7 linked regions of the Homo sapiens genome follow. The protein of the gene in region 1 interacts with the protein of each later gene in a pairwise test. Each region holds a gene or a part of one and is shown in the gene's direction. Other genes may lie near its edges.

Region 1 (3,500 bases):
CTGTGGGTGTCTGTGTGCTGGAGGATTGCCCACAGCTATGATTCAGAGATGCTCATGTTGTTGCCCAAGCAATTGACAGATGATGTTTCAGGCTTGGAGATGGCAGGATGGGAGCAAAGAGAAGCCAGGTCAGGAAAGAACGTGCCGTTCTGGCCCTAGTGGGGAATTCTGGGCCTTCTGGCTCACCCAGTTGAACCTTTCAAACTGTAGGTTATGACCCTTTAGTAACTGTGAAATTAATTTAATGCATCAGGATCAGCATATAAAAAACAAGTTAACTGTAATCTCAGCACTTTGGGAGGCCGAGGTGGGAGAATCACCTGAGGTCAGGAGTTTGAGACCAGCCTGGCCAACATGGTGAAACCCCAATTCCTACTAAAAAAATACAAAAATTAGCTAGGTGTGGTGGCATGTGACTGTAATCCCAGCTACTCGGGAGGCTGAGGCACAAGAATTGCTTGAGCCCAGGAGGGAGAGGTTGCAGTGAGCTGAGATTGCGCCACTGCACTCCAGTGGGGGCGACAGAGTGAGACTCTGTCTCAAAAAACAAGTTAAACAGAATGGAATTCAATAGAAAAGATTAGAATTAATATCGTACATCCTTACAATGAACTATACACATGGCAAGATATTTTAGTTTCAGAGACATACATACTATTTAAGTATGTTCTTCACTACAATGTGAAATATATAGCTTACTGGTGGGTCATCATCCAAACAGTTTGTAGTTGCACTGTTGCGCTTTGTTCTCCTAGAAAATACCTCTAGCCTTTCTTCCCTTCATGGAGGAAAGGTGTTTTTCAGGTGCAGACTGACAGACTTTAGGAAGTTTTTACACGGGGTTATGAAGGAAAGGGATTGCTCTAGGTCTCAGGGAGGTAGGGCTGCTGCAGGGACCCAGACGGGTTTTCAGCGAGGTTGGCAGTAGGTATTCAGCTATATAGAAGTGGAAGTCAAGGACTTTCCAATTCCAGGGGCTCATTTTGATGCTGAAATGGGGGCGGGGCATGAGTCCTAAGTCCAATTTGGCTATGGGACATTATGACTGTGATGCTATGGGCAGGATGATCTGTGGATATTAGATTTTCTTAAAGAGTGGTGTGAAAGAAAGGGTCATATATTGGATATGGGGTCAGAACTGAACTTTAGTTCATCATAATAGCTGTCCTTTGATTACAACTGTGCTTCCAGTGTGACCTTGGGCTCTACCGTGGTTTTCTCTTTTGTAAAATAAGGGTCTTGCCGTTGATTCCAAATGGGAATATTTTGGTAAATGTTCCATGTTTACCTGAAAATAATTCATGTTGAGTGCAGTGATCCGTCTATCTAGTCTGGTTTATTATTCATATTGATCAGATTTTTAAGTGATTTTGGTTTGCTTATTCAATAAGCTATCGAGAGAGGCATTAAAAAGTCTGCTATGATTGTGGATTTACCTACTTTTAGTCTATTGACTTGTGCTTTATATGGTTTGAAGCTATGTTATTTGTTGCCTACAGATTCAGAATTCTTTTTTTTTGTTTGAGACAGAGTCTTGCTCTGTCGCCCAGGCTGGAGTGCAGTGGCACAATCTTGGCTCACTGCAACTTCTGCCTCCTGGGTTCAAGTGATTCTCCTGCCTCAGCCTCCCGAGTAGCTGAGACTACACGTGCGTGATAAGTCTCGATCTCCTGACCTCATGATCCGCCCGCCTCGGCCTCCTAAAGTGCTAGGATTACAGGCGTGAGCCACCGCGCCCGGCCAGATTTAGAATTCTTCTTATATCCTCCTAGGGATTGACCCTTCATTCTTATGTTATGCCTCTTTTCATCTCTGTGAAAGTCCTCATTGTCTGATATTACTATAGCTACATTCCAGCTTTGTTTTGGGTAATGTTTGCATGTTACCTTTTTTTTTTCCCCTGTACTTTCAACTTTTAAAATGTCCTTATGTTTAATGCATATCTATGAGCAGCATATATAGTTGGTTTTTTGTGTGTTTTAAGTGTAGACTGATAATCTTACAATGAGAATATTTAGTCCATTTACATTTAAATGCAATTGTGGATGTATTGGAGTTTATATCTACTACCTTAGTTTTTGTTTGTTTACTATTTGACCTGTCTGTTATGTCCCCCTTTTTCTCACCTGTTTTGCCTTCTTTTAAATTAATCAAGGACTTAAAATTATAGTCATGCGTCTCTCTTTTTTTTTGGAGACAGTCTCGCTCGGTCACCCAGGCTGGAGTGCAGCGGCGTGATCTCGGCTCACAGCAACCTCAGGCAATTCCCATGCCTCAGCCACTCGAATAGCTGGAATTACAGGTGTGTGCTGCCATGCCCGGCTAATTTTTGTAGTTTTAGCGGAGACAGGGTTTTGCCATGTTGGCCAGGCTGTTCTTGAACTCCTGGCCTCAAGTGATCCACCTGCCTCAACCTTCCAAAGTGCTGGGATTAAAGGCATGAGCCACCGCACCTGGCCCTCATGTGTGTCTTAACAAGGATTCAGTCCGAGAAATGTGTCGTTAGGCAGTTTCATCATTGTGTGAACATCATAGAGTGTACTTACACAAACCTAGATGGTATAGCCTGCTACATGCCTAGGCTGTATGGCATAGCCTGTTGCTCCTAGGCTACAAACCTTTACAACATGTTACTGTACTGAATACAGTAGATAACTGTAATACAACGGTATTTGTGTACCTAAACATAGAAAAGGTATAGTAAAAATATGATACAATCTATCACTGTCGTATATGCAGTCCGTTGACTGAAATGTTACATGATGCGTGACCGTGCATGTTCTCTCTTTGTTAGCTCTTATGTTTTACATTCCTTTACGGTTCTTTTGGTGATCACTCTTGAGATTACAGCACGCATCTTGACTTATTACAATATAAAAATAAGTGATTATTTTTACTACTTCTCCAATGATGCTAATACCTTAGAACACTTTTTAGATATTAAGATATATTAAACACCACAAGAATTATTTCTTTGTACAGCCCATATGAATTTAGATTTACCCACATATTTGCCCTTTTTTGTGTTTCTTTCTTCCTGCATTTCTATAATTTTATTTGGTATAATTTTCTTTTTCTCTGAGGAACTCTCCTCTCTCTTACAGTGTAGTCTGTTAATCATGAATTCTTTTAGTTTTTATTTATTTTTTATTGATTTATTTTTTGAGATGAAGTTTTGCTCTTGTCACCCAGGCTGGAGTGCAATGGCGTGATCTCGACTCACTGCAACCTCTGCCTCCCGGGTTCAGGTGATTCTCCTGCCTCAGCCTCCTGAGTAGCTGGGATTACAGGTGCATGCCACCACACCCAGCTAATTTTTGTATTTTTAGCAGAGATGGGGTTTTGCCATGTTGGCCAGGCTGATCTCGAACTCCTGACCTCAGGTGATCCACCCACCTCTGCCTCCCAAAGTGCTGGGATTACAGGCATGAGCCACCACACCCGACCTAGTTTTTATTTTTTTGAAAATGTCATTATAGCTGGGCACGGTGGCTCATGCC
Region 2 (3,500 bases), on another chromosome or scaffold:
GTTGCCCTCCTCCCCTAATTTGGAAGCGCACAATTCCCCCTTATGTGTCACTTGAGCTCCAGGTAATTTCTTGATGCACTGGAAGGACATTAATTGAGGTCTGGAGAGAGGAGGGAAGAGAGAGGAAGATCCAAGCCCCAAGGGAATCTGTGCCCTCCTTGTCCCCTCTCCTTGAAAGTGGGAGTTCTCCAGAGGGTACGCGTCCCCCTACCCTTACCCAGGTACTAGCTGAGACGCGCGGAGAGGGCTTAAGAGCGCCCCTCCAAAGGCCCAGCCCCGCCTGGAGAGAGTGGGCGGGCACCGGGTCCCTGGGGGAGGGGCTGTCGCAGGTTTGGGAGGGAATCCAGCGGGGCTGGCCGTAGCCTGGGCAGGCCGTAGCTTGGGCCGGCGGGAACCCGCCACTGGACTGAAGAGGCGTCTGGCCGTCGCTGACGCCGCTGTCCCCTTCCCGATCCGTCCGCCCGCAGTGTCATCCTGTACGGACCGCAGTTTGTCCCCGGACCTCCAGGACGCACTGCAGGACGACCCCAAAGAGACGGACAACTCGACCTCGTCGGACAAGGAGACGGCCAACAACGAGAACGAGGAGCAGAACTCGGGCACCAAGCGGCGCGGCCCCCGCACCACCATCAAGGCCAAGCAGCTGGAGACGCTCAAGGCTGCCTTCGCCGCCACGCCCAAGCCCACGCGCCACATCCGCGAGCAGCTGGCGCAGGAGACCGGCCTCAACATGCGCGTCATCCAGGTGCGGCCCGGGGCGGGCACAGCTCCTTAGCCCCGCTGGCCTGGGAGCCGGGAGCCTCGGAGGAGTCTCCCGCCAAGCTTCCTTGGCTACGAGCGCGCCTGGTTCTGGTCTGGGAGCAGACCGTGCGCCCGAGTGGGGCACTTGCCCGAGGTCGGGGACTGTGAACCGAAAGATTCCATCTAGCCCTGCTGTCCTCCTGGTATTGCGATTTGGGGGCGGGTCACTTTACCTCTCTGAATTCCGCCCCCCGCCTTGCTTATGGAAGGTTGTAAGCCTCTCTGGGGTCCGGGATCCCTCTTTACCTCCACCTTTCGAGCAGAGAAACAGGCGATGCCCCCTCCCTCCCTGCGCCGAAGCGCGGGCAGACAAACGGCCAGAGGCTGGCTCCGGAGCCGAGGGGCCGAGGCGAGAGCCGTGCCGGGAGGGAGGCCTTTATAGAGCCGTCAGGCCGCGGGCGAGCCGGGGACCAGGAAGCCCAAGTCTTTATGAGTCGCCCCACGGGTCCGCGAAATCCTTCACCCTTGGCTGGTTCGCCGAAGCCTCTCTCCACCCCTCCCGGCCTAATCCGGCCCGGCCCCGCCTCGGGGGAGTCCTGGTGCGGAAGAGGCGCAAGGACCCAGCAGGGGCAGCCCAGTCAGGGAAGGGAGAAGAGGGGGGGAGAGGACACTCCTGATCCTGGGTTCACAGCCCCCTCCTCTGTCCCAGGTGTGGTTTCAGAACCGACGGTCCAAAGAACGCCGGATGAAACAGCTGAGCGCCCTAGGCGCCCGGAGGCACGCCTTCTTCCGGAGTCCGCGGCGCATGCGTCCGCTGGGCGGCCGCTTGGACGAGTCTGAGATGTTGGGGTCCACCCCGTACACCTACTACGGAGGTAAGGGGCGCCCCGGGATTCGCTGTTCCGCACCTGTCCTATTCCGGGAGCTGAGGGCGAAGGGTCCCGGCCAGCACGCTTTCCGCCGCTCCAGAACATCGCCCACTCGCTGGACACACGATCACAGACACATGTACACTCACCCACATGTCCTGGACACAAAATCAGATACATGGTCTCACCCATACAGTGATGCACACAGAAGCACACACGAGATACAGTGACACATTCACCCACGCAGGGCACAAGGTGCACTCACACTTGCGTTCAGAGACTCCAGGGACACACGTCTAGACACGATCGCACGATCACGTATAGGTAAATTCCACCCTCTCACACACAGGTACACTCACGGAGACACAACTCCACAGACGCGCACACTCCCACCAGTCACACTGAGGCCAGTACTGGCAAATCCACATGCATGCGGCCCCCACGGACAGACGCACAGCCTTCCTGCCGCCCTGTGCCTGGTGTACTTGGCATGAGGTGGATTCCGAGCGCTGGAGGGTAGTGTGAGGGGAGGGGATGGGGGTCTGGATTCATTCCAAGCCGCCTGCTCACTAGCATCGAAGGCAGCAACTCCTGTTCCATGTGGCGGGGTGTGTGCGCACAGCATCTGGCAGTGTTAGCCCAAATGCCGGCAGTTGCTCTGGGCAGGACTGTAGTCCACCCTCCAGCCCCGAGACCCCTGGGGTTCCTACAGACTGGGGGCACAAGTGTTGGGCCAACCCCAGATTTCCACCGTCTTTGGGGCTGCAGAGAGCGAGGAGCCCCAGTTTACAAAGGGCTTCAGATGGTGGTACCAGGCTTGGGCCTGGGGTGAGCTGTCCCCTTGCCACCTCAGCTTTTCCTCCTCTCACTTCCCTCACACTGGATTGGTGAGCCATCCCAACTCCCCCTATCCGATTTTTTCAGCTCCTTACCCTGAGCCGCATTGCTTGAGCTCACCAAGCTCACTGTCCTGTTCTTCCCAGGGCTGAGGGCTCAAGAAAGCACCTCTCCTCTTCTATTCTGAAGCTTCTGAATTTGGAGAGACCCCAGGACTGTCTATGTCTGAGAGGCATCTGCACTTCTGAGTTGTAACGCAGGTTAGGAAGAGGCAATTTCTCTTAGAAAGTGGGTTCAGTGGCAGTGTTAGCAAGGCAGGAGCTAGGCACCCAGGTAGACGCAGAAGGGAAGGGAAGATAACCCCATCACTAACCTCAGCACATCCGGAAGCCTGAGGGGGGATTAGACCTTGAGACCGGACCGGGGCCCCTAGAAATTGTGGGCAAAATGCCAGGCTGTGCTTTTCAGGGCAGAGACCCCAGGCAGTGGCAGGGCTCAGGCTGGAGCGCCCCAGCCGCCCAACCCTGGACAGCCCCCCAACCCTGGACAGACCCCCAACCCCGGACAGACCCCCAACCCTGGAGAGCCCGGATGGTGGGCGTGTCTTCCGGAGTCTCCACTCACCGACTCTCTCCACCTAAATTTGCCTCTTTCCCTACAAAATCTGGGCCCGGAGCAGCGAGGTAGTGGGGGCGGTACCGGCCCGGAATTTTTCCCCGCCTGGATAATTAACCAAGGTTTCCCCGAGGACCACTTCGCCCCCGCCCCGACCTATCCCACCGCCTCCTCTCCCTGCGCGCTGGATGAGGTGGGGAGCTGGATACTGGGGGCCCCTCGTTCCCCGTAATGGTGGGGAAGACTCCCCAGCCCCCAGCGAGGCAGCCCCGCCTAATCCGCGCTGGGAGATCCCGGCGGTGGCGACCGGCAGCGGGCGAGAAAGGGGCCGGGCGGCGGGGCCGGCGGCTCCCCGTGGGAGCGCGGACAAAGCCCCAGCTGCGGCTTTTGTGCCCTTTTCAGACGGCGTTTGTTCCAATTACCTCCGGCCCGGCCGCC
Region 3 (4,144 bases), on another chromosome or scaffold:
CTGGGCGTGGTGGCGCCTGCCGATAATCCCAGCTATTCGGGAGGCTGAGGCAGGAAAACTGCTTGAATCCGGGAGGCAGAGGTTGCAGTGAGCGGAGATCGCGCCACTGCACTCCAGCCTGGGTGAAACTCTATCTCAAAAAGTAAATAAACAAATAAATAAACTGATAGGTACAACACACTCATCTTGCAAACTGCTGCAAACGGAGAGGGGGTGAGGGTGGGGTGGGGTGCTGCATGTGCCAGGCCTGCCTGGTGGGTGGCTGGGGAGCCGACCTGCCCTGGGCCTCCTGGGGAAAAAGGGCAGTTAGGCGGGTAATGAACATTGATCTGGGGAAATGGATCCTTTCCTAGATAGCAGGGCCTCTCACTATCACTGGGCAATCAAGACGACTGTAAAACGTTAAACACCTTCTCGGGCCGGGCAGCTCTGCACGAGAAAACCCCAAATCCCACATACTTCCACCACTCCCAGAAGCCCTGTGGTGGTTAACTGGGGAACTCTGTAGGGTTCAAACGCCATATTTGCCCCTTACTGGATGTGTGACCTGCGGCGGGTCCCTGTGCCTCTCTGGGTCTCAGTTTCCTCATCTGTAAGACGGTGATATAATAGTACCTAGCTCAAAGGTTTAATGCTGGTAGATTCCTGAGCAAAGGTCCGGGGAGAGAAGAGGCTCGGTCTGCAAGAGTTGTCATTTGTTGGCTGCGGTGAGACCACGCCCCGTCGCCCTCCCACACCTGACCCCGCCCTCCCGCGTCCATTGGGAACGCCACCGGAAGTAATGCGAGACGGAGCGTTTTGGTGGAGACACTCACTGGGGCAATCTGAGGTAATCCAACAGACTGTGGCGGAGGGACCGGAAGCGCCAGGCAGGGACCCGGGGTAGATGCTAAATCCAAACTGAAACGTACAGGGCTGGATGATTGAAGCACCAGCGGGAACTAGTCGGACCTCCGAGCTCTTTAAACTGTCCTCAGCTCGGCTGGTTCTCCACGAGCTCCGGGCAGACGGCGGGGGGTGGGTCGGCGTTTAAGTCAAAGGCCTTGGGGCTCCGAGTCCCTTCCTCTCCCCGTCCTGTGAAGGCACGACCCAGTTCAGCTGTCTGTAAAGTGGAGCCATTAGTCCCTGCCTCGTAGTGGGAAAACTGGGAGGCGGAACGAGGAGGCCGCCGGTCCCAACCCGGCCCAGGAGCATCTTTCTCCGCAGACCGTTTCCTGGCGAGGTGCGTCTTCGTCCTTTTCCGCCCTTGGGAACTTAGAGCGGCCCCTTGGCCGCTGGTTCCGCGCCTCCCGCGGTTGGGGGCGTGCCCGAAGTCTCTCTACGGAAGCTGGTAGGGCTGTGGGTGCTTCACTATGGCGACGGTGGGGGCTCCGCGGCACTTCTGCCGCTGCGCCTGCTTCTGCACCGATAACTTGTACGTGGCGCGCTATGGGCTGCACGTGCGCTTCCGAGGCGAGCAGCAGCTGCGCCGGGACTACGGCCCGGTGAGTGGCCGCTGTCGTCCCTACGGAGCAGTGGGCAGAGAGGGGTAGTGGAGGAGGGAAGTTCGTCCCCAGGGTCGTTTGCTTTGCGCACGCCGCGCACCGTATCTTCAAATACAAGAATGACGGCCTCTCTCTGCCTCGGTTTTCTCACCGTAAAGGGGTAATAGTATCTCCCTGTGAGATTGTGAGGAAGGAATGAACAAGCATGTAGGGTGCTTAGGACAGGGCCGGGCTCAGCTTGCCGCCTCACAGCAACACCAGCCCGGAGCCCTGTCCTGAGCTTGACAGGGTTCCGCAGTTCATTCTCTCCATGATCCTTTGAGGTCGGGGCTCCTCTCCCCATTTTAAGCAGGGGAAACTGAGGCTTAGAGAGTGAAGGGATTTCCTCAGGTCATACAGTCATGCTCAGTGTTCTTTCTGCTCCCAGATCCTGCGCAGCCGAGGCTGTGTTAGCGCCAAGGACTTCCAGCAGCTGTTAGCAGAGGTACCAGTCCCCTGCCCCTGCACAGCTCCTCCTCGTTAGATTTGTGTCCGCAGCTTGAGGACACAGCTTGAGCCTAGCCTCAGTCCCTGATCCCTGAAGGGTCACTTAGGCCCTCACTTTCCTCCTTCCTGCCCCCCACTCATCCCTCCACACCTGAGTCTTGGCACCAGGAGAGAGAAGGGGAAATGCTAAGTTGCTAAGTTGCCTAGTCATGCCGTTCTTAACAGCTCTGTGAGATAAGCACAAGCACCACTCTCATTTTGGATTGAGAAGCTGAGGCTTAAAGAGGGATCCCTTGCCCAAGCTTTTACAGCAGGAGCAGATGTGATCCCAGCCACAGCTTCCAGGCCCCTGGGCTCCTCACACCTTACCATATACCCCGCAGGCTGCTGCCAGGGCTGCTGCCCCACTCCCTCCTCCTCCTTCCCCTGGAGTCAGTGGTGGGAAGCTTCCCAGGAGAGTCCTCAGCAACCTCTGGAACACAGGACTTGGCCATGACTGTCTCCTGTCCCTGTGTGGGCCCAGATGGTTGAGGTACATCTAGGGGTTCTCATCCCAGCTAGGCTCAGGTTGGGGCAGCCTGAAACAGGATGGGTCCCCTTCTAGAAGTCCCTTTCAGCTAACAGTCTGGAACTTGCAGTTGACCCAGATAGATTCAGGAGTGTAGGCTAGACTTGGCTTCCAGCCTGGGCCCTGTCTGGCGTTCTGGGCTTCAGTTTCTTCATCTGTACAGTGGCCTCAGGAGGATGGGAGGCCCCACCTGGTAACAACCCTGTGCCACCCCAGCTTGAGCAGGAGGTGGAGCGGCGGCAGCGGCTGGGGCAGGAGTCAGCAGCTAGGAAAGCCCTCATCGCGAGTTCCTACCACCCGGCACGGCCTGAGGTCTACGACTCACTGCAGGTACCAGCCAGCCAGAGTGCTTGAAGGCCGGTACTGGAAAGAGGAGGTAGCATCCAGGGCTGGGGGTGCTGCCTGCCCCACAGCTGGTGTGTTTTGCTCCCAGGATGCAGCTCTGGCCCCCGAGTTCCTGGCCGTGACTGAGTACAGCGTGTCCCCAGACGCAGACCTCAAGGGCCTTCTCCAGCGGCTGGAGACAGTATCGGGTGAGGTCCTGGCCCTGAGACCTGGCAGGACCAGGGAATGGCAGCCTGGGAAACCTGGGTGTGGGATGCTGGGGTCCCTCCAGCCACCATCTCTGCCTCCAAAAACCAAACCAGCAGGAGCTGGAAGGGTCAGTGGGACCAACCTGCCAGGAGCAGGACATCCGCATTCATTCATTCAATACCTGCCATGAGCCTGGTATCTTCATTCTTTCCTTCACCCTTCCTTCGTGCCCTCATCCAGCAAATAGTGGATATTTGTGTCATGTGTGGGACAGCTGGCACACTCAAACAGGGCTGATCCAAGATCTTAAAGGGACCATTGAGACAGGTATGGGCAGGATAAAGGGACCAGTAAGGAATGGCAAAGCCCGGCCCCCCAGGGCTGGCAACAGGAGGGAGCAGTTACCACCTGGAGTTGTGGCTCTGGGCGGAGGCCTGCGGCCATGCCAAACTCCAAGTAGGGCAAAAAATGCCCCACTTCTCTTCGGATTTCTTGCTGGGCTCACTTATTGGCTAAACCCAGCAGGAAATGCTGGGCAAGGGAGGTTTGCGTGTTGTTTAACCTCTGATTCAGTTTCCTCATCTGTAAAATGGGAGCAACAGTAACCCCCTCTCTTAAGGCACTGCGACGATCAAGTGAGTTAATCTGCATAGAGTGCCTGTCACAGGGCCCGCACGTAGTGTTTGGAAAGTGTTTCCTATTCTTATTGGCACTGATAGCCTGGGCTAGGGGCTCCTGTGGGAGGCAGATACAAGTTTCCCCTCATGGAGCCTGTGCTTTGTTGGGAGTCATGGGTGGAATGAATCCCCCTCCTCCCAGCCTGGGGGTGCTCTCCTCATTGCCTTCCACTCCCCGGCAGCTGAGATAGTGCTGAGGCTGTTGGCTGGGGCAGGGCCTAGGCTGCGAGGTGGCCCCATCGTGGGCACACTAGCCCTGCACCCCTGGGCATTGGTGCGTCCGCCAAGAAATGTTTAGGTTTCCATTCTCAGCCTGGTTTCTTCCCCCTCAGGGCCCAGCAAGAAAGAACAGCCCCTTCTGGCCTTCCTGCTGGGGGACAGAGGCTCCCAGAGCC
Region 4 (3,500 bases), on another chromosome or scaffold:
CCAGGCACATGTGCCGGGTTGAGAAGCTTTGTTCTTCTAGTGGGGGCGCAGTGGCTGGCCTGGCCGCCCTTCACCCCTGAGTCACGCCATCTGTTCCTGGATGGGGAGTGGGGTCCAGGAGGACTGGGATTTCTACCAACTCCCCCGGCAGCCGGCTGTGCCCAGCTCCTGAGCCAGGTTCTGCAGACCCTGGAAGCCACCTTAAGAGATGGCTAAGAAGCTCTAGGCTTCCCCTTTCTCTGGAGAGGAGGTGCTTTTGACCTAACTGACCGATGACAGGGAGGACCGGGGAGCTGGCACTATGGAAAGTGGGGTAGGCCGAGGGTGTGGCAGGAACGGGTTCGTCCAGCAGGACACGCTGTGTCCCAGGAAGCGCTGGGTCATCAGGGAGCACGAAGGAAGCAGTGTCAGAGGAGAGTCCCCCAGGGCAAGTGTGGGGTTCCCTGCAGGCATCCGGCAGTGGTGAGCTCTGGAAAGAGTGGCCGGTCTGTCCCAGCATAGCTGCTGGCCACAGGCCCACCCTTGCCCGAGGGCGCCAGAGCCACAGCCTGGGGCCTTGCTGCAGCCCAGCCCTCACAGTATGGGGATGCTGCAGTGTGGGAGCAGGCCCAGGGGCCACGTTCCTGCCCGCCTACCCCAGCGCTGTCGCTGAAGGCCCTGGCACCCAGATCAGCCAGGAGGGGCATGGAGCACACACAGCACCCAGTGGAGGCTGGAGGCCTAGTAACTCCAAGCCAGGAGGGCCCAGGGCCTCCTGGGGAAGCTGAGCCCTTGGAGCCAGCCCCACCCAGGAGACCCCGTGCCCCGGGCGGCTTCCTGGAGTGGCGTCCTCCGCCCTCTGCTCTCCTGAAGTCACGGGTCCTGCCCCGGTGCCCACCTGCACACTGAGGGCACGGGCTTGTCTGTTGCTCCTATAGAAACCTGTGGGCTCTGGGGCCAGGGCTACCATGAGCCAGGCTGCCCCACCCTCTGATTCCTGGCCTGGGTAGTCCCCAGGGAGACCTGTGCGTCCCCGTGGCCATTGATGGTGTCACATCCTTGGCCTGAGCAGGGTTTGTTGGCGTCACATGCCGAAGGAGTCTTCTAATGTCTCTCCCTCTCTGCGTGTCTGCTCTCACACCCGTGCAGGCATGACGAGTGTTCTGATGTCAGCCATTGGACTCCCTGTGTGTCTTAGCCGCGCACCCCAGCCCACCAGCCCTCCCGCCTCCCGTCTGGCTTCCAAAAGTCACGGCTCAGTTAAGAGATTGAGGAAAATGTCCGTGAAAGGTAGTTCTTGTTCCCAAAAGCTCTCTGGCCTTTGCTAAGCCTCCTTCCGGCCTCGCTGCCTCTGACTCTTCTGCACAGACCCTCTTCCTTCTCTCTGCTCCCTGACTCCTGGGGGAAGGGGCTCAGTGGCCCTTCTCCCTGCCCCCGCTCGGCAGCAGAGGCGGCCCCTGGAAGCTGACTTTCCACCGCAGCCCCAGAGTTCAGCTCCTCTCCTCCAGTCACAGCTGGCATGAGGGGGCTTGTTCTTGAGGACTTTGTGATTTTTGTAAGCAACAAGTTGTGGGTGAGAGGCGGCGCCCGGCTCAGGATGCGGGGACAACCGTCCCTTCCGCCAGGGCCAGCACGTGTCTCGGGAAAGGCCCCCAGACAGCGGCCCAGGTCTGCTGCCCAGGTCTGCTGCCCTGACCCCCAGCCCTGTGTGGCCGCCACGTGGGCTGCTTGAGAGGGGTCCCTCGGTGACCCCTGCCCTGCTCGTTGCATGGCCACAGAAGAAGGGGCTTTAGGACCACAGCAGGTCCAGGGAGTTACAGCAAGACCTGCTCGGAGCAGCCTGTGATGGTCAAGTTCTGAACCTTTCCCAAGCGGGTGCTGGCCCTGCTTCCACCCCTGGGCTGTGGAAGTGTGGACTGTGGCCAGTCCAGACGCTCTTGAGTGGGCGTGGTGGCGGGCAGGGAGGGTGGCCGTGGCCCTGCTGGCCCTCAGTGTCTGTGTCATCTCAGCAGGTCCTCTCGGAGCCTCCGCTTAGCAGAGGGGCTTGGCGAGGTCTAGGAAATACTCGAAGCGCCTGGCATGCGGCAAGGGTGGCTTCCGATCGTGTCCGACCTCCAGCCCACAGGCGAGGAGGTGGGCTCAGGGAGGGGTGGGCCTCGAGCTCCTGCCCCCAGCCCAGGGCTCTGCACGCCCTGCCCTTCCCCTGCCCTGGGGGAGGAGCCAGACTCGTTGGCAGCCCGGGCTGGCAACCTTCTGTGGCACTCGGGTTTACCTGGGAAGGACACGCTCTTGGTGGGTCGCCTGGCTGGCCCCTTCTGAGACACGTGGCTAATGGAAAGCTCCCTTCTGCTCTGAAAAGCTGCAAGGGCTGGGGTGGGTGGGCGGGGGTGGGATGCTGTGCCCGGCCTCACCAGGGCTGGGCAGAGGCGAGGCCCAGGCTCACCCGGAGATGGCTCTGGAGTTGGCAGGCTTTTCCAAAGGAAAAGGCCCCCCTCAGCCTGAGTAGGGCATTCCAGCCACACGGAGGGCGACCCTGAGCTGGGGGCCATCGTTCTGGTCTGGCGTTCTCGCCACCGTGACAGGATTTGGGTTCGGGCAGTCTGTATGGGTGTGTGGAGGTGTGGGGTGTGTGGGGTGTGTAGAGGTGAGGGTGTGTGGGGTGTGTGGAGGTGAGGGTGTGTGGGGTGTGTGGAGGTGTGGGGTGTATGGAGGTGTGGAGTGTGTGTGGAGTGTGTGTGGAGGTGTGGGGTGTATGGAGGTGGGTGTGTGGGGTGTATGGAGGTGTGAGGTGTGTGGAGGGGTGAGGTGTGTAGGGTGTGTAGAAGTGTGGGGTGTGTGAGGTGGGGTGTGAGGTGTGTGGAGGTGGGTGTGTGGAGCTGTGTGTGGTGTGTGGAGGTGTGAGGTGTGTGGAGGTGTGGGGTGTGTGGAGCTGTGTGGGGTGTATGGAGGTGTAGGGTGTGAGGAGGTGTGGAGGTGTGGGGTGTGTGGATGGGGGTTGGGGGGTGTGGTCTTGCCAGCAGTTTCCCTCCAGGTCACAGCAGCCATGCCATCACAGCAATTCCAGCTTGGTTACATATTCGTCTTTCCCGTTTGAGATCAGGGAACCGAGGCTCAGAGGTGGCATGATTCGTTCACAGCAAGAGAACTAGAATTAAACAAACCGTGCCGACTCCAGCCTCCACCCCACCACGCCACCTCCCTGCCAAACTGTCCCCTCCCTGGCCCTTTTTGGTGTAAAGGGAGTTCAGCAGGTGCAGTTGTGAGCCCTCAGGCTTAGAATTCTCTGCAGCCCCTGAAGGCCGTGAGCTTGGATTCAAACCAGAGCCCCTTCTGGTCCTGGAGTCTGGGACGACCGCAGCCCCACCATGACCTTGGGGTGGAGCCCCTGTCAGGAGCGCCTCCACGGGTGGCACTGGGCTCCCCGTCCCTCTTTCACCCCCGCACGGGCTTGGCTGCTGGCTTCTGTGGTTCTGCTACTCCCACTACCTAGAGAACGCCCCGGGCCGCGCCGATCCTCACCA
Region 5 (2,721 bases), on another chromosome or scaffold:
AACCATTGCTCTATAAGAACTGATATCCTGAGTTTTGTTTTTCTACAAAACAGCCCTTGAACTCCTTACCAAAAGTTTATCCTGTTATTATTCCTATGTTGAAAAATAAAGGGTGAAGTGGGTATAATATAAAATTGCTCAAGGATGGCTCTTATAGGATTGCTTAATTGAATCAACCCTGGAGTCATAATCACCTTTTCAAAAATCGCTTTGATCACTCTTAGTCTTTTGTTTGTTCATTTGTATTTTACTTATAAAATGGGGTCTTGCTGTGTTGCCCAGGCCATTCTCAAACTCCTGGCTTCAAGCAATCCTCCCCCGTTGGCCTCTCAATGAACTGGAATTATAGGCGTAAGGCACTAACTCACTCCCAGTCTTAAAAGATGTAAAAGGAGAAATATTGGCCTATTTTGCATATTGAGGGTGATGCTTCTGAAATAAAATTCCTCCCTGCCTCTGAACGCTGCTGTAACAGGGTGAGTTCTTAAAGATTATACCACAGGAAGTAGCAGAATCTGACTCCCTACTTATCAATGAAGAAATTGAAAAACAAATCCAGGATTTGTACTTGATCTCCTTATCTTCCCCTATTGCTGCCAACCAATTGTTTCCACGTGGGCAGAGGTTCTTAAGCTTTTTGTTCTCAAGTCCCATTTTACCTTCTTAAAAATTATTGAGGCATCTGAAGAGATGTTATTTATGTGGTTAATTGTATTAATAGCACTTTGGGAGGCCAAGGAGGGAAGATCACTTGAGGCCAGGGGTTTAAGACCAACCTAGGCAACATGGCAAGACCACATCTCTACAAAAAATACAAAAATTAGCCAACTGTGGTGGTGCGTGCCTGTAGTCCCAGCTACTCAGGAGGCTGAGATGGGAGGATCATTTGGGCCCAGGAGTTCAAGGCTGCAGTGAGCTGTGATCACACCATTGCACTCCAGCCTGGGCAACAGAGCAAGACCCTGTCTCAAAAAACAAATGAAATGAGCTGAAATATAAAATAAATAACTAACATGACATAAAACTATATACAATAAAATAAATTAAAATAAACATAACATAAATTACATTAAATCAAATTAAATATTAGCTGGTGCATGCTTGTGGTCCCAGCTACTCAAGAGGCTGAGGAGGGAGGATGGCCTGAGCCTGGGAGGTTGGGGGTGCAGTGAGCTATGATTGTACCACTGCACTCCAGCCTGGGTGACAGAGCTAGACTCTGTCTGGAAAAAAAAAAAAAAAGAATATTAATAATTATTTCTTTTTAAAAAATTTTCTTCCTCATTGTTTCTTGTTCTGAAATAATTATTCTATGAGAAATCATAGCATAAATTTTAAAAATATCTATTCATTTAAAAGGAACAATATTACCTGTTGATATAAATAACAAATTTTAATGAAAAGTAACTATATTTTCCAAAACAAAATGAAATTTGTGAGTGGTATTATTTTACATTTTACAGATCTCTTTCATATCTGCCTTAACAGTTGTCAGCCGGCTTCTCGTTTGTGTGGCTGCATTCATTCTGTTGTGCTATGTTGTCCTGTTTGGAGTATTTGAAGAAGACCTAGCATCACTAACATGCGGTTGGGAGAGGGAGGCAAAGCTTTTTTAAACGATTGTGGATATTCTATGATAGTCCACCAAAACTCCGTAAGTGATAGTTTCTTAAAGGTTAGCTGAAATGTGAAATTTTTCTACTCTATTTTATTGAAATCTTCAGGTCTGTGTCACACTTTAAATTGATCTTTATCATGCATGATTTTCTAACTTTACCCATTGGTCAATGGGAGAATATCAATTCATTGAGTCATGCAGATCTTCCAAATATATTTTGAAAAATTGCACTGTTCCCTTGTGAGAGAATGTGAGTGAAAAAGGCATATAATAGGTCATGTTATTGTGAACATGGTTTTCATCTGAGAACCCTTGCATTAGCGAATTCTTTTTTTTTTTTTTTTTTTTGAGACGAGTCTCACTCTCACCCAGGCTGGAGTGCAGTGGCTTGATCTTGGTTCACACAACCTCTCCCTTCTGGGTTCAAGCAGTTCTTCTGTCTCAGCCTCCCGAGTAGCTGGGATTATAGGTGTGCACCACCATGCATGGCTAATTTTTGTGTTTTTAGTAGAGGTGGGGTTTCACCATGTTGGCCAGGCTGGTCTTGAACTCCTGAGCTCAAGTGATCCACCCACCTCAGCCTCCCAAGATGCTGGGATTATAGGTGTAAGCCACTGTACCCAGCCTGCATTAGTGAATTCTTTATAACTCAAAAAAAGATAACTCCCTCATTAAATGATCGAAAGCATGGAATGGGGGGAAGAGGAGCTATATAATTTATTTCATGATTTAATGGAATTTTGGCCCTAAAACATAAAAGATAATACAGCTTAAATTTTTAAAAAAGAAAAGAAAAAGGAAACAAAACTGTAAGTTTCCCTTACATATGAAACCCAACTAAACAATATTTAGATCAAATACACTGACCTGCCTCCTATGTAGATCAGCTAGCCTCTGAGGGGCAAAACCACACTGCTTGGTTATGGAGACTGCAAGACCTTCCAGGGCCTGCAGCTCAGGAGAAGTAGGGGCCCTGGGCAGCTGTGTTTATTTGCAGAGCCACCAAACTCACTACCCCATATCATAATCTTCCAAACCAGCCTGAGCATAACTAGCTTCCTTACATCTTTACTAAGAAAAGGAAAGGCTTCTTTCTTAGTTTT
Region 6 (3,500 bases), on another chromosome or scaffold:
CAGCAAGTTTGCGGTAGGCAGAGAGCCAGCGGTGGTGAGAGCTGGCCTGAGAACGAGCCAGCCTTCTGGGAATGGCCGGTGTGAGAGGCCAGTGGGTGGCCTTGCCGCGCCCTTATGTCCAGACTTTGCTCTGTGAGAGGCCTGGCGCTGCGCCTTTGATTTCTGTGAGTGCTGCGGAGCAAGTGAGTGCGAAAGTGAGTGGAAACCATTTGGTGTTTGCTGGGGAAGGCCGGTGACTGGGGGGTGAATAGTGAGGCGGTGAGTCGAGGTACGTTTGTGAAGGAGGTGGTGGATGACTGCCCACCTTGCCCCAGGCGGCCGCTCAGACTTGACCTTTGCGCTTCTCCGGGATATTCTTCCTCCGGGTGGGTTGAGAAGCCGGACCAGGATTCCACGAGGGGGAAGGATTCTCTATTCTTTTTTGCGACAAATCTGGTAACAGGATTTGCTGTGCTGTTTTCGTCCGTGTGTGTGTGCGTGTGTGTGTGTGTTCGTGTGGATGCACGTGTGGCCCCGCTGGGGTGCCCCCTCCAGTGTCCCCGGAGCTGAAAGATCGCAAAGAGGATGCGAAAGGGATGGAGGACGAAGGCCAGACCAAAATCAAGCAGAGGCGAAGTCGGACCAATTTCACCCTGGAACAACTCAATGAGCTGGAGAGGCTTTTTGACGAGACCCACTATCCCGACGCCTTCATGCGAGAGGAACTGAGCCAGCGACTGGGCCTGTCGGAGGCCCGAGTGCAGGTACCCAGCTGCCAGGAGGTCGAGGGCCCAGGGAGCAGAGAGAGCCTGGGGTTGGAAAGAGGCTTGGGGGACACACTCGGGAGGTGGTGCTTCTAGTGTCTGGTGTAAGATGAGAAGGAAAGAGATATCTTTACTAGAGGTCTTATTTTCCAAAGTAGATCTTAGTCCTATAGCACTCCCCTCCTTTTTTTTTTTTCCATCCTAACATATGTTCCCAGAAGAAGAAAGCTGTGCTGGGCTTTCTCCCAGAGTTTCTATAAACCACACCCCCCTTGCCTCGCACTGGCTTTAATGTGGTTTAATCCTAATGGGCCTACTTTTATAAGGCTTAAAAAAAAATCCCACAGAAAACGTTTTATCTCTGGATGCCTTAAAAGTTCCAAAGAGTATTTTGTTCTCTGGAGTTGGATTTCCTTGAAAGTCTGCTCTGCAGGGTCTAGGTTTGTCAAGCGGATATCCCAATTAGGTTTATAGATGTGCAGACTATAAAGAAAATTAGTAACTGTTAAGTGCAGAAATTTACAGTCTGCTGTTAGCGGTCGATCTCAAACTGTGTGTGAAATAGCGGAGAAATAAACGCATTTTGGTCACTCTTTGTTCATTCATTTAACCAAGGCAACGAAACTGACCCTAAATACATTAGATTTTAAAACAAACCACATATATTAGTATTTATATTTCCAAAGCCTGCCCTCCAGCACGTGCCATACCCAATGAAGTTAGGACTGAAACAGATTTTCTTTATTGGTTGTGGAGGCAAATGTAATAGCAAAAATAGGCTTTGGGGGCATTTAAAGGAGCAAATTGTGTACATTCACATACACATATCCTTCTAGCTTTAGGGGGAACAAATTTAAATGTTTCAGATTGTATTTCCGCTCAGATAATAAAATAGAATAAAATGATAGTTATTATTGGTTTGAACACATGGAGCAGTTTTAGGCCCGCACATCTGCAGCTGTTACAAAGTATCGCTGTAACAGATACTCTTTCGGTCTCTGGGCACAGAGACCACCATCTGTAGCGAACTATGCACAATTCTTAAGGGGCTTCCCCACATCTTGTAACAGGATCAGGAAAAAAAAAAACAGAGCAGTCACGTTGAAGAGGAAAAGTAATAATAGGCTGCCTTGGTCATCACAGCATCAGCAGCAGAGCCTTCCTTTTTAAGCCTCTCCTGCTTCGCTCTGTGCACTGAGATCTCCAGAGGCTCAGCAACCCCTTAAAAACATGATGATAATTATTACAGTTATGATTATTAGTATCTTAATTCCAACTCTTCTAGGGGAAAAAAAGGCAAGAAGCCTCAGGCCATGTGAATTACACAAAGGATGCCACCCTGGCACAAAATCCACCCTCTGTTGTACTAAATAGCAGAGAAATTTTTGAAGATTTACATTGACTATGACACTTGCTTTCAAAAACATACCAATGAAAGCTCTGAAGCAGTATTTTTACTTTAATGGGGTTTTAAAAACTTTAATTTGTGAGTCAATCAATATGCTTTATTATTGAAAGTGGAATACAAAAGCAAGCTTTATTTGAATTTTAAAAAATCTGTCATACTGCCTGTAAAAGTTGTCAAGTTTAAGCAGGTAACATCCAGGAGAACAAAGTACCTAAGAGTTACTTGCTTTATATATACTTCATTCTCCTTTCGCTGAGTGCTCTTCTTTTTTTCTCTTAAGAAGTGAACTTTATTGTTGTTTCATACTTTTATTTACATTTTAGTTATTTTCTAGATGTTTTCCTACTATCCTAACTGCAAACAGTGGCTTTTTCTAAAGAAGCAAATTAGATTATCATGATAATGGTGCACAATTATTCTGCTACTGTGTTTCACTCTGCTGCACAGCAGAACAGAGAAATTCTAAACTTCTTTGTAGTGAGGCTTTTATGACACTAATTACCTCTCCCCAACCCTTACAACTCCTTCTCCGCAAAGGAGTCATTATTTGCTCTGGTGTTTGGTTTTTCTTTAAGATGAAGCTAATTAACATTACAGGCTATTAATGAACACATTCTTCTCAGGTCTTAACTGGGCAAATATCTAAACCATTATCATGTTGGTATCAGGTACCAAGCAGAGTTTTAGGCCATGGGGACTCTGTTATGTGAAAAGATGAAATCAGGACTAATAGTAATCTATCTTGTGAAAGTCTATAAAATCTATCTTTCTATTTCTGTAGTTAATTTACATGTTTAACTTTGGAATTTGAGGCTGTTTTATACAATTCAAAGATTGCTTGCTGTATCTCCCAATTCTTGTCTAAACCACGACTCTTTTCTCTTTGTACTTTTGTAATTTAAAAAAATTTTTAGTCATAACATCTAGGTTTTATTTTTTTTCCCCCTCCAACCTATAGGTTTGGTTTCAAAATCGAAGAGCTAAATGTAGAAAACAAGAAAATCAACTCCATAAAGGTATGCTTCTTATACAAGGAACATTTGATAGTCTGAGCAAAGAGAGAAGTAGTGAATATTACTATTACAATGACAGAAAAAAAGGAACCTCAAAAATGACAATAGTTCTTGACTTAATAATCTTCAAAGGCTGTTAATGGAGTCCTAAAGTTTGGGAGTAAGTTACATTTATTTAAATTTTGGATGCAGTTTAGAAAGATAATAGTCCATTTTCAAAGGAATTCGTTCTGTCTTGTACCCTTTGGAACCCTGAAAAATGCTACAAACGTTAACCTCACATTATTTTTCTCTTGTACTTTTTACAGGTGTTCTCATAGGGGCCGCCAGCCAGTT
Region 7 (3,500 bases), on another chromosome or scaffold:
CCACACCTTCCTCACCGCCTGCATTCCACTGCTCCAGCTATTTTAACGGCGGGTGTGTCCCCGCAACTTCTGTATTTTCCCTGGAATCCCTCACCCTCCTGTGATTATCTTGCCCAAAGGCTAGGCGGATTTCTTCTAGTGGGAAAGTAAAAAGGAAAGTTTATCTTTGGATTTTCACTCTCTTTAAAGAGCAGTGGGCAGGCTCGTTTCTTTCTCGCCCTCTGGGTTTGTGGCTCTTTCCTATTATTCATCCCCTGCTGCTGCTATTGCCTTGGGGATTTTGATGAGAAAAACAGCGCTGGGCGCTCCCTAGCACGTGGTGCGGGCTCTACAGCCCTTGGCTGCTAAGGAGCGCTCTTGTCAGCACAGGTTTCATTTGCAGCATGAATTCCAGACGGCAGGGCGCTGGTGGAGGAGACTAGTCCCTGCTATTCTTCCTCTGCAGTCTTGGAGGAGGCCAGGCCTGGACTGGCCAATCTTAGCCCTAGCCAGGTATTCAACGACCCCTGCTCCCCAAACTGGGGTGCTGTTTTCAGATGGAGGCAGGGCCTCTCCAGGCAGGGCTACAGGTGGAGGTCAGCACTGGGGGCGCTTTGGCTCCACTGGCCTCCTAAGCAGTTTATTAGCCTGCCCAAGCCCCAAGTGTATTGTTTGAATGGGTCTATCCCCCTCCCCAAATTGGTCCTAATTCTAATATGGTTCAAAGAATGAGACAAGATCCTAATTCTAATAGCTCGTCTTTTCACCCCCCTTTCTTATATACCTATTTTTGGAGCCTCACTGCTTATAGATTCCAATTTTTGTAGGTAGAATTTTCTACATTCCCTCTGAATGTTAGTTGTCAGTTGTATTTAGCTAATCCCATAATTCCCAGAGGAAGGCAGAAGAAAGAAGACTTCTCTGCTCCTGGGCTGGTGGAAGGGAGGTCTCGCCATTTTTCTGTCTCCTTTCTTTTTATAGTCCCAGAATTCCTATTCAGAATATCTTGTCTCCTCCCTTCCGCTCACCCTCCAACTCCCTCCACCCACTCCATCACCTGGTCTCCCCCGTATTAGGTGGGTAAAGAGAATATAGTATAGTAACCCCCCACCTTCATTGCTGGGTCAAGATTTTCACTGGTGAATAGACAACATGGTGCAAGGTGCATAATAAATATTTGTTGAATACATGGAAAAATCAATGATGTTTTAGGAAAATAATTTTTAAGTTCTATATGTCCAGGTGGCCCCAGCCTACATTCTTCAGCATTTGAATTCTGTCAAGTTGACTGCAACCTCTCTCTTTTTCTCTCTGGCTCCCCACCCCCTCCTTCCCTTGGCTCTCTGCTTCTCCCTCCCCACCCTTGGTGCAGAGGAGGCTGGCAGCTGTGTGCAGGATGGGCAGAGGTATAATGATAAGGATGTGTGGAAGCCGGAGCCCTGCCGGATCTGTGTCTGTGACACTGGGACTGTCCTCTGCGACGACATAATCTGTGAAGACGTGAAAGACTGCCTCAGCCCTGAGATCCCCTTCGGAGAGTGCTGCCCCATCTGCCCAACTGACCTCGCCACTGCCAGTGGTTGTAATTTATTTATTTCCTGTTCAACATAAATAAATTACTTGCAAGCACTGCAAACACGCTCCCATAGATGCTGGTCGTCTCTGCAAAGCAGAGGGGCTAGTTATCCATGGGACCTGGTAGCTGGGGTAGAAAGGAAAGGCCACTTCTCACTTGCAGGTTGAAACTGAGTGAACGAGCCTGAGACACTAGAGGGGTCCTTCTTTGCCCAACATCTCCAAAAACATTTGCTTCCAAGACACATGAAGGACAGATGTGATTCTACAAAAAAAAAAAAAAAAAAATCCTCTCTGAAATCATCTCTGCAAATTACTAGAGCCACTATGGAGATCAAATGCTCTGTCTGGCCAATCCACGAATTAATTCCTCCTCTGCCACCGACACCTTGTCTTCTCCTTAGAAGACTTCTATGTATGTGGTCTTCAGTGTGGAGAAAGCTCTGCCAGCTAGTGGGGAGACTGCAGGGGCAGAGGCTCCCTCTTTGAGTTATGGAACATTGGTGGTAGTTTCCTCTCTGCTATTACCTCTCTTGGAGTTGACCATTAATTCAGAAGCAAAATAATAGGAGAGGGAAGGGCTAGGCTTTGGGAGTTCTCGTGGGGACGGGTGGAGACAGAGCCCCATGTATCTGCACTGTAGTGGGTGGTTATAAACTCCCAGTTAGATCCAGTGCTGGTGGATGATATATGTGCAGGTGACCCCTTCCCAGCATTCATACAGATGTCCTATCTCCCTGCAGAGTGAGTGGGGACGCTTGTGTAGGTTTTTTGGGTAGCTCTTGCTGTCCGCTTCCTGCTGAAGTAGAGAAGGCCGTGGCAAGGGAAGTGAGAAGCTGCCTTTCCTTAACACTTCACCAACACTGGCTCCCTAATGTGCAGATTCCCAGATCCTTTCTGAGGGGCCCGTGTGAGTGAAGTGTTGATTGCCTTTACTATTTTGCTGCTACTGTGAAGGAGAGGTTATTGACTGGGGATGGCACAGGCTATGATGCTCCGATGCTCTTCATAACTCATATGCCTTGCTGTTTTTGTGTTTTTATTTGTGCTTGCTTCAAGGAGACCCAGCTCTAATGTAAGACCTTTCTAAGTACCTAACTCTTCCTCTGGGAGGGCTTGGGGTTCGGGAACGGCTCCCTACCCTGTGGGGGGAAGAGAGACTGAATCTGTGCTTTCCTTCTTGTGGCTGATTAGATCTTGAGCTCTTCATTGCCTTTTTGTGCTGCCCTTGCTCCTTTCTTTTGCATGCTGCCTGCTTTTTGAATAACAAAGTCTGGGTCACCTCCATTCCTCATGGGACCTCAGCAACCCCAGGGCCACAGTGGCCCTAACACCCCAACAGAGGGGTTCAGTGGAGTCACAGGAAGCTGCCGCCTTCCTTGATTGTGTCCTTTTACTTGTTTGATCTAATGAGTGTTTGAGTGACAAGAATAGGTATTTTTCCATCTCAAGATTCTTACCTTCTTCTTCTCTATATTTTTTCCCTTGCAGGGCAACCAGGACCAAAGGTAAGGGCTTTCTTCTTTTTCTTTTTTCATATTTTTTTGGCTTTATATTTTCTGCTTCAAAAGCAATGCTATGTTAATCCAGTCTGTGATTTTTTAGACATCAGAAGATATCTGTTTCAGAGGGTACCTCAACACAGGGGCTGCTGGCAGGGTTTTAGACTAGGGGCTTAGTGGGCTTACTCGGCTTAATCCTGTGAATGTTTCATGTTTCAGGGACAGAAAGGAGAACCTGGAGACATCAAGGATGTAAGTGCAAATTATTCTCACCCGGTATTGCAGCTGCTGCTCTAAATGGGTCATTTCCTTGTGCTCTCCTCTAACTTACCATCCTGTGGGGCTCTCTCTCACAGATTGTAGGACCCAAAGGACCTCCTGGGCCTCAGGTAAGAGAGGGAGAAATCTCTTTCTCCGTCCCTTCCTCGCTGCGCGCAAGTTACT

What was found.
Region 2: the proteins of COQ8A (region 1) and LHX5 interact in binary tests that used the Homo sapiens proteins (3 or more experiments, as listed by UniProt).
Region 3: the proteins of COQ8A (region 1) and OGFOD2 interact in binary tests that used the Homo sapiens proteins (3 or more experiments, as listed by UniProt).
Region 4: the proteins of COQ8A (region 1) and DTX2 interact in binary tests that used the Homo sapiens proteins (3 or more experiments, as listed by UniProt).
Region 5: the proteins of COQ8A (region 1) and LDAF1 interact in binary tests that used the Homo sapiens proteins (3 or more experiments, as listed by UniProt).
Region 6: the proteins of COQ8A (region 1) and SHOX2 interact in binary tests that used the Homo sapiens proteins (3 or more experiments, as listed by UniProt).
Region 7: the proteins of COQ8A (region 1) and COL2A1 interact in binary tests that used the Homo sapiens proteins (3 or more experiments, as listed by UniProt).

Annotation. Positions count from the first base shown.
Region 1 is NC_000001.11:226,967,794-226,971,293, forward strand, and holds part of COQ8A (atypical kinase COQ8A, mitochondrial), read left to right. Parts: intron 1-3,500. UniProt on the Homo sapiens protein: Atypical kinase involved in the biosynthesis of coenzyme Q, also named ubiquinone, an essential lipid-soluble electron transporter for aerobic cellular respiration.
Region 2 is NC_000012.12:113,465,372-113,468,871, reverse strand, and holds part of LHX5 (LIM/homeobox protein Lhx5), read left to right. Parts: intron 1-467; coding exon 468-745; intron 746-1,450; coding exon 1,451-1,616; intron 1,617-3,500. UniProt on the Homo sapiens protein: Plays an essential role in the regulation of neuronal differentiation and migration during development of the central nervous system.
Region 3 is NC_000012.12:122,973,900-122,978,043, forward strand, and holds the start of OGFOD2 (2-oxoglutarate and iron-dependent oxygenase domain-containing protein 2), read left to right. Parts: upstream 1-1,344; 5' UTR 1,345-1,352; coding exon 1,353-1,484; intron 1,485-1,911; coding exon 1,912-1,968; intron 1,969-2,353; exon of another isoform or gene 2,354-2,493; coding exon of another isoform or gene 2,494-2,502; intron 2,503-2,754; coding exon 2,755-2,868; intron 2,869-2,971; coding exon 2,972-3,071; exon of another isoform or gene 3,072-3,267; intron 3,268-4,081; exon of another isoform or gene 4,082-4,144.
Region 4 is NC_000007.14:76,496,209-76,499,708, forward strand, and holds part of DTX2 (probable E3 ubiquitin-protein ligase DTX2), read left to right. Parts: intron 1-1,128; coding exon 1,129-1,269; intron 1,270-3,500. UniProt on the Homo sapiens protein: Regulator of Notch signaling, a signaling pathway involved in cell-cell communications that regulates a broad spectrum of cell-fate determinations.
Region 5 is NC_000016.10:21,175,674-21,178,394, forward strand, and holds part of LDAF1 (lipid droplet assembly factor 1), read left to right. Parts: intron 1-1,463; coding exon of another isoform or gene 1,464-1,485; exon of another isoform or gene 1,486-1,488; coding exon of another isoform or gene 1,489-1,561; exon of another isoform or gene 1,562-2,721. UniProt on the Homo sapiens protein: Plays an important role in the formation of lipid droplets (LD) which are storage organelles at the center of lipid and energy homeostasis. In association with BSCL2/seipin, defines the sites of LD formation in the endoplasmic reticulum.
Region 6 is NC_000003.12:158,099,921-158,103,420, reverse strand, and holds part of SHOX2 (short stature homeobox protein 2), read left to right. Parts: exon of another isoform or gene 1-193; coding exon of another isoform or gene 194-194; intron 195-534; coding exon 535-743; intron 744-3,109; coding exon 3,110-3,167; intron 3,168-3,472; coding exon 3,473-3,500. UniProt on the Homo sapiens protein: May be a growth regulator and have a role in specifying neural systems involved in processing somatosensory information, as well as in face and body structure formation.
Region 7 is NC_000012.12:47,997,977-48,001,476, reverse strand, and holds part of COL2A1 (collagen alpha-1(II) chain isoform 1 precursor), read left to right. Parts: exon of another isoform or gene 1-492; intron 493-1,351; coding exon 1,352-1,558; coding exon of another isoform or gene 1,559-1,561; intron 1,562-3,045; coding exon 3,046-3,062; intron 3,063-3,275; coding exon 3,276-3,308; intron 3,309-3,412; coding exon 3,413-3,445; intron 3,446-3,500. UniProt on the Homo sapiens protein: Type II collagen is specific for cartilaginous tissues. It is essential for the normal embryonic development of the skeleton, for linear growth and for the ability of cartilage to resist compressive forces.